2 separate regions of the Homo sapiens genome follow, and region 1 is linked to region 2. The links come from fine-mapping of genetic effects on gene expression. A gene starts in region 2. The other region holds a variant in brackets. All regions are shown on one strand. Distances are between the middles of the regions. Region 1 holds the start of POLR2I (RNA polymerase II subunit I). Region 2 holds the start of HCST (hematopoietic cell signal transducer).

Region 1 (2,898 bases), 210 kb after region 2:
CGTTTACGCAGCGCTGCTCCCTGGAAGCTCACCTTGCTAAGGTGCATGGACAGCCGGCCAGCTACGCTTACCGTGAGCGCCGCGAGAAGCTGCACGTGTGCGAGGACTGCGGCTTCACCAGCTCCCGGCCCGACACCTACGCACAGCACCGCGCCCTGCACCGCGCAGCCTGATACGGTGTGCCAGCGTCCTCCCCACGAGGCAAATAAACACAGAAAACTCACGCATGGAATCTGGTGTTTATTACACTCGGGGGAGAGAGGAGGTCACTCGGTCCAGCGGTGGCCGCAGTGTGGGGCTGTGCACACGTAGTAAAGGCGCATGGCGTCCTGGCAGAAATGATGCATGGTTAGGAAGGATTTGGACCCAGCAGCGCCTTACCCCAAAAGAACAGGCAAGAGAACTTCACCAATAGGTAAGGGCCCGGCAGAGTTCCAAGAAGCGCAGGGTCACCCACATTGATATCCCCGCCCCCAGAAAGGACCAAACAAGCCCCAGATACTTAGAAAGCCCTCGCGCCACTTACCTCGGCCCGCGCACTGTGTGACTGGAAGAACACAGCCTCCTTGTGGCCGCACCTGAGAGGGTAGGGGCTCGGTCACCGGAGGCTTCACACCCTTCCCTCCTCCCTTCGCCCAGTGAGGAGACGAGCCTCACTTTACCTCCCCAGTACCAGCTGAACGCTCACTTTTGGCACGGGTGGTCCTCGGTCCGCGGCAACGTGGGGTCCTGGGACACGTCGGCGATAATCTGGGTCAGTTCGCTGCAGGGACGCGGGGGTGCAAAATTACGCTCAGACCCAGCCTCCAGAGCCAACACCCCCGCCCCCAGCTCAGGGCCCGCCACTCACTCCACTTCGTGCGTGATCTTGTTGACATAGATGCAGCTGTTGTCGGCCTCCTGCTGGTAATCACAGTTCCGGCACTACGAGAGGGCGAGTGTGGGGGAAAGGGGGTCACGGAAGGATTCCAGACAAGATTGGGAGGAGAGGGCAGGGTGATCCCGGAGGATATGACGACAGGACTCTCTTTGGGGATGGGCAGGACATGAGAGTCAGGATCACTTGAGGTGCAGCGGAGGGCGAACAGGGAGTCCGATCACAGAGGCAGGGGGCAGGGCGGGGCCACGCTGGGAACAGGTGGACCTGCCGGGGAAGACCCCGGCGCTCACCGCGTAGAGCAGAATGCGGTTCTCCTTGTCTTCCTTGGGGTACAGCATGTTGTTACTGTGGGGAGGGGGAGGTGCCAGGGGTTAGTTCTGGAGCCATTCCTCGCCCGCCTTCTAACATCACCCGCTCCCTCCGCCTCACCATTCCTGGCAGAAGCGAATACCCACGAAGCCCGGCTCGTAAGTCCCGTCGGGCTCCATGGCGACGCGCAGCCCGCGCAGCCCTCCCAGCCTTCCGCGCTTGCTCCGCCGCGCTACAGGTCGCGGGAGGGGCCAGGCCTAGGTGCTTCGCCAAAAGAGGGCGGAGCTGCGCACAC[G/T]TGCTGGCTCCCCGCCGCCTCGGGCTCGGCTCTCTCCGCGCAGAGGTTTCATGGCTTGCTTCAATCTTTTGATATCTTAGAGTAATTGCTTCCAATTTTTGGGCATCGCCGCCTCAGTTTACAGAATAGTATGGATCTGGTGCCAGAGCCGGGAAAACGATGCGCATCGTAAACCGCAAAACACTGAGCATCCAGGACAGAAGCCAAGGCGCTTGGCTTGGTTGAAGGCCAGTGCGCATGCGCGAGTTTACCCTTCGCGGACTGGGCGAGCTCTTGCCACTCCTACCTCCGGGCTTCAGTCTTCGCCGCCTGTTCTGGTCCTTTCCCGGGCCGCTATTGGAAGAACCGTGAACTATGGAAGGCCCCTCTGGATTGGCTGGGCTGGCCCAAGAGTAAGGAGAGCCCTCTTCCTGGCGGTGGGGAAGGGACGGCGGCGATTGGCGGACGCTCCTGGCAGGAGAGCGCGGATTGGTCAGGCACGGAGCAGGAGGCGGGGCTGATAGCCCAGCAGCAGCAGCGGCGGCGGCGGCTGCGGAGCGGGTGTGAGGCGGCTGGACCGCGCTGCAGGCATCCGCAGGGCGCGGCAAGATGGAGGTGACGGGGGTGTCGGCACCCACGGTGACCGTTTTCATCAGCAGCTCCCTCAACACCTTCCGCTCCGAGAAGCGATACAGCCGCAGCCTCACCATCGCTGAGTTCAAGGTGTGGCCATGGGGGCGGGGTCCGGAGGGGCGGGGCGAAGAAATTGGGGGGTTCCCGGAAGGGGGAGGCTGGGAGGGGCCGGGGAGTGACTGGGCGGGCCCGGAGGTGATCCCAGGCTGCGGAGGCTGGGGACCCGGTCGCGGCGGGGCGGGTCCGGAGAGAACTCGAGAGTGCAGAGATGAGGGCCGGGTCCAGCGAAAAATCCGACGGTCCAGAGGGCGGGGGCAAGAGGCGAGGGGCTGGATTGCGGCCCCGTGCGTCCTGACTGGGGGGTCTTTTGGAGGAAAAGGGACGTGGCGATGGTCATTGATGCAAGGGGCGGGGCCTCCGTGGCCTCCTTCTTCTCACCCTGCCTCCTCCTCACAGTGTAAACTGGAGTTGCTGGTGGGCAGCCCTGCTTCCTGCATGGAACTGGAGCTGTATGGAGTTGACGACAAGTTCTACAGCAAGCTGGATCAAGAGGATGCGCTCCTGGGCTCCTACCCTGTAGATGACGGCTGCCGCATCCACGTGAGGACTCTCTATCTGGGACACTCCCCCACCCCACCTTTCATTTGGTTATTCAACAGACACTTGCTGGGCTTTGCCCTCAGTCATACCCGAGATAGGTCCTGCCTTCGTGGAGCCTCCAGTGCAGCCTGACGAGAGACAGACCCATCATTAGACAGGGACAGCCTAGAGTGGTCTGGGCTGGGATCAGGAAATCCCAGGG
Region 2 (2,898 bases):
CTTTTTAGAGGTCTGGTTTCATTTACTCATTCATCATTTAAAATAATTTATTGCAGCAGAGGAGGCATTTTGCTGTGTATTGTGAACTAAGCAGGCAGGAATTCCCAGCCCTGGAGCTGGCATTCCAGTGGGAGGCCACTCTCAGTTTCACTTGGTGACCTTTCACAGCACTGACCATGTTGGCCCTATTTCTCCCCTGCTTGCTTGCTTTTCTATTTTATTTTATTATTACATTTTTATTGTTAGAGAGAGGGTCTCATTCTGTCGCCCAGGCTGGAGTGCAGTGGCAAAGTGGTGAGATCTCGGCTCACTGCAACCTCCACTTGCCTCAGTCTCCCAAGTAGCTGGGATTACAGGAGCCTGACACCATGCCCGGGTAATTTTTGTATTTTTGTAGAGACGGGGTTTCACCATATTGGCTTGAACTCCTGATCTCAGGTGATCCCCCCACCTTGGCCTCCCAAAGTGCTGGGATTACAGGCATGAGCCACTGCGGTGGCCTCTCCCCTGCTTTCAAGATGCCATGCTCTCAGGGGTCCCCTCCCTCTTTCTCCATTTCCCTGGCAAAGTTCCTCCTCTTCCCCCATTCAGTGTGTGTTGTGATAGGGGCAGAATCCTGTCTGCACTCACTTCCTTGGTGATCTCACCCAGTCTTGTGGCTTTAAGTACCATCCATAAGCCATCAACCCCCAAATTTACATCTCCAGACCAGCCTTATCCCCTGAACTCCTAAATGCAGTGAGGTTATTCAGCATCTCCACAGGGAGATTGTCAGGCATTTCCAACCCTGTATGCCCAAACCTCGTCACTTTCCCCGCAAACCCACTTCCCTACCTTTCATCTCTGCCAGCAGACACTCCCATCTTCTCAGCGTTTCATGCCAGAAGGCTTGGCTGTCTAGGATCCCTCTCAAACACACCCACATTCATTTAATCAGCAAATTTTCTTGGCCCTACCTCCAAAATATTTCCAGATCTCCCTAGCCTGCACACCCTTGCCACCTGTCATTCCCACTTGGACCAGGCCAGCAGCCTCCCTGGTCTCTCTGACCCTCCCCCTGAGTTCGTTCACCAAAGGCAGTAACGGAGACACCCCCTCAACACACACAGGAAGCAGATGGCCTTGACACCAGCAGGGTGACATCCGCTATTGCTACTTCTCTGCTCCCCCACAGTTCCTCTGGACTTCTCTGGACCACAGTCCTCTGCCAGACCCCTGCCAGACCCCAGTCCACCATGATCCATCTGGGTCACATCCTCTTCCTGCTTTTGCTCCCAGGTGAAGCCAGTGGTTACAGGGGATGGTAGGCAGAGCGTTTGTGAGATGGGTGCTTGGGTGACGTCTGCAGGGACGGGTGATGAAAGTGGGGTTCTTCTCCCTGCACCCCTTCCCTTCTGGGAGATCCATTCTGCTTCAGGGCCTGGGTCCTTGGGGGCGGAAGGGGGTGAGACAGGGAGTTCTGGAGGGGCTGCCTGTTAGCGTCCCCTTCTCATGGCTGGGTCTCTGCTGCCACTTCCAATTTCTTGTCACTCTCCATGTCTCTGGGAGTCCCCTTCCCATGTGGTCCTGTTCCATCTCTCCAGCCTGGAGATTACTTCTCAGGACACTACCTTTCCTTCTCTACACCCTATTTTTTGGTTTGTTTATTTTGAGATGGGGTCTTGCTCTGTTGTCCAGGCTGGAGTGCAGTGGCACAATCACGGCTCACGGCAGCCTTGACTTCCTGGGCTCAGGTGATCCTCCCAGCTCAGCCTCCCGAGTAACTGGGATTACAGGTGTGAACCAACACTTCCAGCTAATTTTTGTATTTCTTGTAGAGACGAGGTCTCACTATGTTGCCCAGGCTGGTCTCGAACTCCTGGGCTCAAGCGATCTTCCTGCCTCGGCCTCCCAAAGTGCTGGGATGACAGGCGTGAGCCACGGTGCCAGGCTGAGCATTCTGTTTTGTGGACCTTCTCTCCACCCTCATCCACCTTCTTTCTCTTTCCACAGTGGCTGCAGCTCAGACGACTCCAGGAGAGAGATCATCACTCCCTGCCTTTTACCCTGGCACTTCAGGTATCACTTCCACCCCAGAAGCTTGGCCAGAGGCTCCCAGAACACCCCAGTGGTTCTCCAGGTCACCATCCCACCTCCCGTCCCCAAATCAGAGGATCCGTGTCCTTCTCCGAGTCCCAGAATCAGCGACCCCCAGCCTGTGTTCAGGAGCACCCCGTGTGCCCGCCGCACAGCCCCGAGGGTCCTGGGACACCCCAGCCTCTCTGCATCTGTCTCCCGTTTCATTCCCCAAGCGCAACTCCAAGGAACCTGGGACCCGCCCCCTCGCAGGGGACTTCCTCTCTGCCTGTGGCCAAAGCACAGCCCCAGGACGCAGAGCTTGAGTTGTCTCCCTGTTCCGGCCCCCACTCTCCAGGCTCTTGTTCCGGATGTGGGTCCCTCTCTCTGCCGCTCCTGGCAGGCCTCGTGGCTGCTGATGCGGTGGCATCGCTGCTCATCGTGGGGGCGGTGTTCCTGTGCGCACGCCCACGCCGCAGCCCCGCCCAAGGTGAGGGCGGAGATGGGCGGGGCCTGGAAGGTGTATAGTGTCCCTAGGGAGGGGGTCCCAGGGAGGGGGCCCTTGGGGAAGCCCTGGAGGAGGTGCTGGGGAAACCCTGGGGGAGGTGCCTGGGGGAACCCCTGAGGAAACCCCTGAAGCAGGGGGTCCCCAGGGAAGTGGAGATATGGGTGGTCAAGCTTCATGCTTTCTCTCCCCTATCCCCAGAAGATGGCAAAGTCTACATCAACATGCCAGGCAGGGGCTGACCCTCCTGCAGCTTGGACCTTTGACTTCTGACCCTCTCATCCTGGATGGTGTGTGGTGGCACAGGAACCCCCGCCCCAACTTTTGGATTGTAATAA

Evidence for each region. PIP is the estimated chance that this variant, and not a neighbour inherited with it, causes the effect.
Region 1: its variant is fine-mapped to the expression of HCST in ovary (GTEx, PIP above 0.99).

The regions. Positions count from the first base shown.
Region 1 is chr19:36,113,489-36,116,386 of GRCh38, forward strand. OVOL3 (ovo like zinc finger 3) reads left to right here. Exons shown (of 4, transcript NM_001302757.2): 4 at 1-223. The coding sequence ends at 173. POLR2I (RNA polymerase II subunit I) reads right to left here and starts at 1,387. Exons shown (of 6, transcript NM_006233.5): 1 at 1,310-1,387; 2 at 1,171-1,225; 3 at 851-924; 4 at 689-763; 5 at 527-578; 6 at 221-329. The coding sequence starts at 1,368. The coding sequence ends at 267. TBCB (tubulin folding cofactor B) reads left to right here and starts at 1,980. Exons shown (of 6, transcript NM_001281.3): 1 at 1,980-2,186; 2 at 2,553-2,696. The coding sequence starts at 2,073. RefSeq lists enhancers at 371-882, 901-1,030, 2,621-2,710 and a silencer at 2,221-2,310. The variant G/T (reference allele first, on the strand shown) is at 1,485.
Region 2 is chr19:35,901,359-35,904,256 of GRCh38, forward strand. HCST (hematopoietic cell signal transducer) reads left to right here and starts at 1,171. Exons shown (of 4, transcript NM_014266.4): 1 at 1,171-1,278; 2 at 1,993-2,058; 3 at 2,414-2,545; 4 at 2,762-2,898. The coding sequence starts at 1,236. The coding sequence ends at 2,802. It also overlaps a transcript of NFKBID not described here.